Regions from separate parts of the Homo sapiens genome. Here regions 1 and 2 are each linked to region 3. The links come from fine-mapping of genetic effects on gene expression. A gene starts in region 3. Each other region holds a variant in brackets. All regions are shown on one strand. Distances are from middle to middle.

Region 1 (2,761 bases), 24 kb before region 3:
AAGATGGATGCAAGTGGATGGTTAAGTGTTTTAAATAGTTGAACGGTTTCAAGAAAAAACCAGAGTGGGTAGTTGATTTAGGGAAGCTTCTGGTTAAAAGTCTACTGTGAAGAAAGAAGTGAAGGAAGAACAGACAGACCAGCTGGGTTCAGCCAAAGGCTCTCCAAATAGACTGTTCTGGGCAACTATTGCTAGATCATTTTCAGTTTTCATTCTTTATTTCTGGGATATTTTCCAACAGTGTTCATATTAGAAGTACACAGTCAAAATGAAAGGGGATTGGGTACTCCTGCATTGAGCAAGGGGCCTGAAATCTCCTACTCTATTGAGCCAGTCTCTGTCTTGTCACTCTGGATTCTTATCTCTCTGCTGTTTCATTACGATTTCAGAGAAACGGCCCAGCGCGGTGGCTCACGCCTGTAATCCCAGCACTTTGGGAGGCTGAGGTGGGCAGATCACAAGGTCAGGAGATCGAGACCATCCTGGCTAACACGGTGAAACCCCGTCTCTACTAAAAAATACAAAAAATTAGCCGGTGTGGTGGTGGGCGCCTGGAGTCCTAGCTACTCAGGAGGCTGAGGCAGGAGAATGGCGTGAACCCAGGAGGCAGAGCTTGCAGTGAGCTGAGATCATGCCACTACACTCCAGCCTGGGCGACAGAGCGAGACTCCATCTCAAAAAAAAAAAAAAAGATTTCAGAGAAAGGCCAGGCACAGTAGTTCACGCCAGTAATCAAAGCATTTTGAGAGGCTTTGGTGGAGGATCATTTGAGCCCAGGAGGTCCAGGCTGCAGTGAGCTGTGATAGTGCCACTGCACTCCAGCCTAGGCGACAGAGTGATGAGACCCTGTTTCAAAAAAATAGCTTTCAGAGAAAGAGTGAAATTCAGTGGGGCAGGAAGCTGCCAGGAGGTAGGTATTATGCCCCTGGGAAGAGGGCAGAGTCACAGAAGTTCCCAGTGAGCCAAGAGGTGTCTGTCACTGATTCCTGGCCTCCTACAGCACAATGCTATACTGTTTTGCTCAGGACCATGTCTAATTGTGGTTCTGAAATTCTGCCACACACTGGATTCACCTACGGAGTTTTAAAAAATCCCAATGGCCAAGCTGCACCCTATTCCAATTAGATCAGAATCTCTGGGGATGAGACCCAGGCATTGATTCCAATGGATAGCCAAATTTGAGAACCACTGCTGAAACAAATGCATCCTATTCAAATAACTCAGAAACAAGCCCATAGTCATGGTGATAGCCAGATAACAGCGAATACAGGTATCAGAAGTCGAAAAAGGGAAGAACTAGAGGCTATACTA[G/C]AACTGCTGCTACAAGTTATGTAGAGACAGACAGCCAGCAAGACAGCAGCAGAGTATCAAGCCTTGAACATAATCATCCGGTAACCCACAAGAGCCCCATCAACAAACCTGTAGAAGTGTAATAACATAACACATATTTCTATAACCATTTTAACTTGCCACAGTCTTTTCATGTCTATTGTCCTATTTTATTCTCACGACAACCCCAGTGGGCAAGTAAAACAGGTATTCTGAAGCTCATTTATCAGATAGAGAAACAGAACTAAGAAGTTAAATAATCTGCCTAGGGCTCACAGGAGGACTGTGACAGAGCTGGACCGAGAATCCCAGTCTTTCAACTGTCCTTTATCTCTGCTACGAAAACACAATGCTCTGTACTCTGTCCAAAAATGAGCTCGGCACTATGATCTAGGTTAAGGGGCCAGTTTGTGCAGATAGCTAATGTAGAAATTTCTCTTGCCCTCCTGAACAGGGAAAAGAAATCGTTCTCTTTTCTGAGATTCGCTTATCTACAACTAATGAGAAAAGCCACGTAAAAAAGTAAGTTCTTAGTTTAAGAGAATTCCAGAGAAAGTATCAAAGGATGCCAGAGTCATGCCCAAAAGTAAACTGGTCGTAAAAGATTTAGAAAGCCCTGGAAACAGAAAAGAAAGCATCATCTTACACTTGTACAAAATCACAGTGCAGCCACACCAGGAATACTGCATTCACTTCTTGTCGCCATACCTCAAGGAAGACAATGCAGCTAGAAAAGGTCCAGAGAAGGACAAATAAAATGACCAACAGCTCAGAGTGGCTTTCACATGAAAATAAAATTTTATATCAGACTCTTCAAATTGAAATAACAAGATGGGGATGCTGGGATAAGGTTTGGGATCAATTTAAGAGTACTCTCAACCAGGACCGGTGGCTCACACCTATAATCCCTGACCTTTGGGAGGCCAAGGCAGGAGGATTGTTTGAGACCAAGAGTTTGAGACCAGCCTGGGCAACATAGCAAGACCCCATCTCTACAAAAAACGTTTTAAAAATTAGCCAGGTGCAGTGGCACATGCCTGTAGTCTCAGCTACTCAGGAGGCTGAGGCAGGAGGAGCCCTTAAGCCCAGGAGTTTGAGGCTGCAGTGAGCTATGATTGTGCCACTGCACTCTGGTCTTCTTATAATCTTCTTACAAAGTGGTTAAGCAGGAGTTAAGTTATTATTAAACCCTAAGAAGTAGTACTATTGGGCCAATCAGGAATTAACGACATTTCAGGAAAAAAAAATGAATTATTTGCTATAATTAAATAGAGAGCATTTTCCTAAATACCTGATTTATTTATTATCAAGGTCAGAATAATCTCAAAAATAAAGATCCTTGATATCCACAGAAGATAGAATACCAGGGGGATAGACAGTAAAATTAAATCAGTATGCCACTGCTGAACTTTTTAGGCCTTTCTGGGTCACC
Region 2 (2,761 bases), 40 kb before region 3:
TATAGGCATTGGCCACTGCACCTGGCCAAAAAAAGTAAAAATTAACCTGGCATGATGGCCACCTGTAGTCCCAGTTATTCAGAAGGCTGAGGCAGGAAGACTGCTTAAGCCTAGGAGTTCGAGGCTGCAGTGAGCTATCACTGTGCCACTGCACTCCATCCTGGGCGATAGAATGCAAGACTCAGTCTCAAAAGAAAAAAAAAAGACTTGAGGAAATGTTTTTTTAACTGGATGGCATGGTATTGTTAAATTTTCTTCCAGTTCAAAGGAGGAAAAAACAATCATCACATCAAAAAAAAGTATGAGGAGTATCTCAAAGTATGGGGAATACCTCAAAAACAACTCCCAAGCTCTTCTCCCCACTCTCTAGCTATTTCTGCCTCCCCAGGGGTGAGGCCCAAACATCTCACAGAAAAGAATGAAGGCCAAGACCGCAACGGTTACACTCTGTGCTCTCATTCCAGGAAGGCCTCTTCTCATTCATTACGCTCTGATTTCAACGGAAGCACATTGTAGCTCCAAGATTGCTACTGACTTCCCTGCAACTTTTCACCAACATCTGGGTAGGTTTGTGTGAGAAAGTGATGATCATCAGCTGATGACTTGATAGTGCAAGATAATCAGGTTATCTTTACCTTTTTTTTTTTTTTGATTTTTTGTAGAGATGAGGACTTGCTATGTTGCCTAGGCTGGTTTCAAACTCCTGGACTCAAGCTATCTTCCTGCCTTGGCTTCCCAAAGTGCTGGGATTATAGGCACGAGCTACTGTGCCTGCCCACTGGTGATCTTTTAATCAACATTAAAAAATAACTACAATACAGCCAGGCGCGGTGACTCACGCCTGTAATCCCAGTGCTTTGGGAGGCTGAGGCGGGCAAATCACAAGGTCAGGAGTTCGAGACCAGCCTGGGCAACATGGTGAAACCTCGTCTCTACTAAAAATACAAAAATTAGCCAGGCGTGGTGGCAGGCACCTGTAATCCCAGCTACTCGGAATGCTGAGGCAGGAGAATCACTTGAACCTGGGAGATGGACGTTGCAGTGAGCCAAGATCACGCCACTGCACTCCAACCTGGGCGACAGGGTGAGACTCAGTCTCAAAAAAAATAAATAAAATAAATAACTACAACACTGAGATATAATTCACAGTCCACACAATTCACTTAAAGTATATAATTCAATGGCATTTAGTATATTCAGAGTTAAGATTATGATTACCACAACCAATTTTAAAACATTTTCATCACCC[C/A]AAAAAAAAATCTCATGCCCACTAGTAGTCACTCTCCTCATCTCCACCCCACATTACCCCAGCCCTAGACAACCACTAATCTACTTTCTGTCTCTACAGATTTGCCTATTCTGGACATTTCATATGCATGGGATCATACAATGTGTGGGTCTTTTGTGACTGGCTTCTTCCACTTAGCATAGTGTTTTCATGGGTCATCCATGTTGGAGCACATATCGATACTTAATTTCTTTCAGTCTTTTTTTTTTTTTTTTTTTTTTTTGAGACAGGGTCTTGCTATGTCACCCAGGCTGGAGTGCAGTGGTGTGATCAAGGCTCATTGCAACCTCGAGGTCCTGGGCTCAAGTGATCCACTCACCTTGGTCTCCTAAAGTGCTAGAATTACAAGTGTAAGCCACTGTGCCTGGCAATTACTCCTACTTTGTTTTTTTTTTGAGACAGTCTTGCTCCATCGCCCAGGCTACAGTGCAGTGGCAATCATAGCTCACTACAGCCTTGACCTCCTGGACTCAAGCAATCCTCCTGCCTCAGCCTGCAAAGTAGCTGGGACCAGCTAATTTTTTTTGTTTTTTGTAAAGATGGGGTCTCCCTATGTTGCCCAAGCTGATCTAAAACTCCTAGACTCAAGCAATCCTTCCACCTTGGCCTCCCAAAGTGTTGGGATTATAGGCACGAGCCACCACACCCAGTGATACTTATTTTCATTGCTGATATTTCCATTATAACAATATATCACATTTTGTTTATCCTCTAATCCAGTAGTCCTCAACCTTTTTGGCACCAGGGACTGGTTTCCTGGAAGACAATTTTTCCATGAACCGGGGAGTTGGAGGGGGGGTGGTTTCGGGATGATTCAAGCACATTACATTTATTGTGTACTTTCTTTCTTTTTTTTTTGAGACGGAGTCTCACTCTGTTGCCCAGGCTGGAATCCAGTGGCGCGATCTTGGCTCACTGCAAGCTCCGCCTGCCAGGTTCACGCCATTCTCCTGCCTCAGCCTCCCGAGTAGCTGGGACCATAGGTGGCCGCCACCACGCCCGGCTAATTTTTTTGTATTTTTAGTAGAGACGGGGTTTCATCGTGTTAGCCAGAATGGCCTCAATCTCCTGACCTCGTGATCCGCCCACCTTGGCCTCCCAAAGTGTTGGGATTACAGGCGTGAGCCACCGCACCCGGCCTGTGTACTTTATTTCTATTATTATCACGTTATAATATATAATGAAATAATTATACAGCTCACCATGATGTAGAAATCAGCGGGAACCCTAAGCTTGTTTTCCTGCAACTAGATAGTCCCATCTGGGGGTGATGGGAGACAGTGACAGATCATCAGGCATTAAATTCTCCTAAGGAGAAAACTAGATCCCTCGCATGCTCAGTTCATAAGAGGGCTCCTGCTCCTATGAGAATCTAATGCCACCACTGATCTGAGAGGAGGCGGAGCTCAGGCAGTAATGAGAGCAATGGGGAGCAGCTGTAAATACAGATAATGCTTCACTTGCTCGCCCACC
Region 3 (2,761 bases):
GTGTGATCCTTTCTGTTTAGGCTCCTTCCGTTTGGTACTGATTGCTGCTTTTATTAGCAAACATTACACCAAAATGAAAATAAATACAAGTGTCAGTGCGGGAAGGGAGTAAAGTGGGTTCTGTGTCTTCAGTACTGGCAAAAGATTTGCTGTGAGACCTGGTGGTCAACCCAGTACCTGATCTTCTCTGTGCACCTGTGCAATTATTGTAAGGATGTTTATCTGTCTGTCTTCTTCCCCCTCACAGGGCGGGCAGCTGTGGTCTTCCTTATACACCCTACTGACACAGGGCTAGGGCCATTCAGGAAGCAGTCATTTCAGGGATAGGCCCACTGCCGCGCCTGCCTGCTCATGTCCACAAGCAGCTGCCCAGCTGATCAATCACCACAATTTGGGGTTAGGAGTTTGGTCCTGGAAGGCAGGTAGCAACAACTACTACCTAGCCAAAGAATATTCTAAAGAGCTGTCCTGTCATGTTCAATGTCTAGGTCCACAATCCCGCAAGCTTAGCGAAGTAATGCTCTGTCATTCTTACCCCCATTTACAGATGGAGAAATGGGCTGGGAGATGACAGTATGGAGGCACCAGGATTTTTGTCTCGGCTCAATTTCTGCATCTCTAAATGGAAATAATTCTACTAACTCTGAGGGTTGTTGGGGGGATTTAATGAATATATGTGTTTACTTGTTTATCTCCTGTTTTCTGTTCTAGACTGTAAACCCCAATGGGCAGCGACTTTGGCTTGTTCACTGCTCTATTGTCAGAGCCTAGAACAAGTGCCTGGTACAAAGTAGGTGTTCAATAAATATCTATGCCTAAATGGAAGAGACAGGAGAGAAGTCTAGGCCAGAGCCTGCCCCTTCTATAACCTTAGTTCCCCAGATTTGCCTTCCACATCAGGCAGCCACTGGTTGATGGAAGCATCGTCGGGCTGGGGCTGGGGCTGGGGTAACCTACTTCTGGCCTTAGGACAAGGTCGGCAAAAATCTCAGCAGTGAGGAGGCCAGAAAAGTCTCCAAGGGGCAGGCTGCAATGCCAGCCTAAGCCCTCAGGTTTCCTTTTTCTTTTTCTACATCAGGAAAAGCACTTTTCTCGCCCTGCCTGCAGAGCGGGCCACCCCTAGCTGCAGGTGAGGGACGGGAGAGGAGCCTCCCACGTGCGGCCGTGCGAGGCCGAGGAACAGGAACGGCGTAGCTAGGAGACCAGGTCCCGGAGAAGGAGAGCTGGCCCCACTGGCAGAGAAAGGCGGGGAAGGGCGCGGAGGCGGAGCACTGGGCGGGTACCCGCTGGCGGCTCTCGCGCGGCGGCGCTGCTCCACCTTAAGCGACTGTACCCCCTTAAGGGCGGGCGCTCAAGCAGCGAGCCCCGGGGGCGGGGCCTCCAATGCAAATGAGGGGCGTGGGCAGGCGGGGCGGGGCGGGCGGGGCGCTGACCTGACGTCAGGCTCGCGGCCCGGGCAGTTGGCTCGGCGGCAGCGGAGCGGCCGGAGCTGCGGTGCGGACCGGGGCCGCGCGGCGTGGCGCGGGGAGCGGCGGCGGCGGCAGAGCCAGAGCAACATGGCGCCGGTGGGCGGGGGCGGGCGCCCGGTCGGCGGACCGGCCCGCGGGCGCCTCCTCCTGGCGGCGCCGGTGCTGCTGGTGCTGCTGTGGGCGCTGGGGGCCCGGGGCCAGGGCAGCCCCCAGCAGGGCACGATCGTGGGCATGAGGCTGGCGAGCTGCAACAAGTCGTGTGGGACGAACCCGGATGGCATCATCTTCGTGTCCGAGGGCAGCACCGTGAACCTGAGGCTGTACGGCTACAGCCTGGGCAACATCTCCAGCAACCTGATCTCCTTCACCGAGGTGGACGATGCCGAGACCCTCCACAAGTCCACCAGCTGCCTCGAGCTCACCAAGGACCTGGTCGTCCAGCAGCTGGTCAACGTGAGCCGCGGGAACACGTCCGGCGTGCTGGTGGTGCTCACCAAGTTCCTCCGGAGGAGCGAGAGCATGAAGCTGTATGCACTGTGCACCCGGGCCCAGCCCGACGGGCCCTGGCTGAAGTGGACGGACAAGGACTCACTGCTCTTCATGGTGGAGGAGCCTGGGAGGTTCCTGCCTCTCTGGCTGCACATTCTCCTAATTACGGTGCTGCTGGTGCTGTCGGGCATATTTTCTGGCCTCAACCTCGGGCTTATGGCCCTGGACCCCATGGAGCTGCGCATCGTGCAGAACTGTGGCACCGAGAAGGAGAGGCGCTATGCCCGCAAGATTGAGCCCATCCGGCGCAAGGGCAACTACCTTCTCTGCTCGTTGCTCCTAGGGAACGTGCTGGTCAACACCTCCCTCACAATCCTTCTAGACAACCTCATCGGGTCCGGCCTCATGGCGGTGGCCTCCTCCACCATTGGCATTGTCATCTTTGGGGAGATCCTACCTCAGGCCCTGTGCTCCCGACATGGGCTGGCTGTGGGTGCCAACACCATCCTTCTCACCAAATTCTTTATGCTACTCACCTTCCCCCTCAGTTTTCCCATTAGCAAGCTCCTGGACTTTTTTCTGGGCCAGGAGATTCGCACTGTTTACAACCGGGAGAAGCTGATGGAGATGTTGAAGGTGACGGAGCCCTATAATGACCTCGTGAAAGAGGAGCTCAATATGATCCAGGGTGCCCTGGAACTACGGACCAAAACTGTAGAGGATATCATGACCCAGCTCCAGGACTGCTTCATGATCCGCAGCGATGCCATCCTGGACTTCAACACCATGTCGGAGATAATGGA

Evidence for each region. PIP is the estimated chance that this variant, and not a neighbour inherited with it, causes the effect. A credible set is the group of variants that fine-mapping cannot tell apart.
Region 1: its variant is the best candidate, but not a certain one, in a credible set for the expression of CNNM4 in whole blood (TOPMed, PIP 0.59).
Region 2: its variant is the best candidate, but not a certain one, in a credible set for the expression of CNNM4 in whole blood (TOPMed, PIP 0.67).

Annotation. Positions count from the first base shown.
Region 1 is chr2:96,735,162-96,737,922 of GRCh38, forward strand. All of the region lies in intron 2 of LMAN2L (lectin, mannose binding 2 like), which reads right to left. Among named protein-coding and RNA genes, the nearest start is that of LMAN2L, 3.5 kb to the right of the region's middle. The variant G/C (reference allele first, on the strand shown) is at 1,312.
Region 2 is chr2:96,719,840-96,722,600 of GRCh38, forward strand. All of the region lies in intron 4 of LMAN2L (lectin, mannose binding 2 like), which reads right to left. Among named protein-coding and RNA genes, the nearest start is that of LMAN2L, 19 kb to the right of the region's middle. The variant C/A (reference allele first, on the strand shown) is at 1,250.
Region 3 is chr2:96,759,444-96,762,204 of GRCh38, forward strand. It overlaps CNNM4 (cyclin and CBS domain divalent metal cation transport mediator 4), which reads left to right and starts at 1,459. Exons shown (of 7, transcript NM_020184.4): 1 at 1,459-2,761. The coding sequence starts at 1,557. RefSeq lists enhancers at 897-946, 1,506-2,095, 1,967-2,216, 2,096-2,684 and silencers at 1,277-1,696, 1,820-2,003.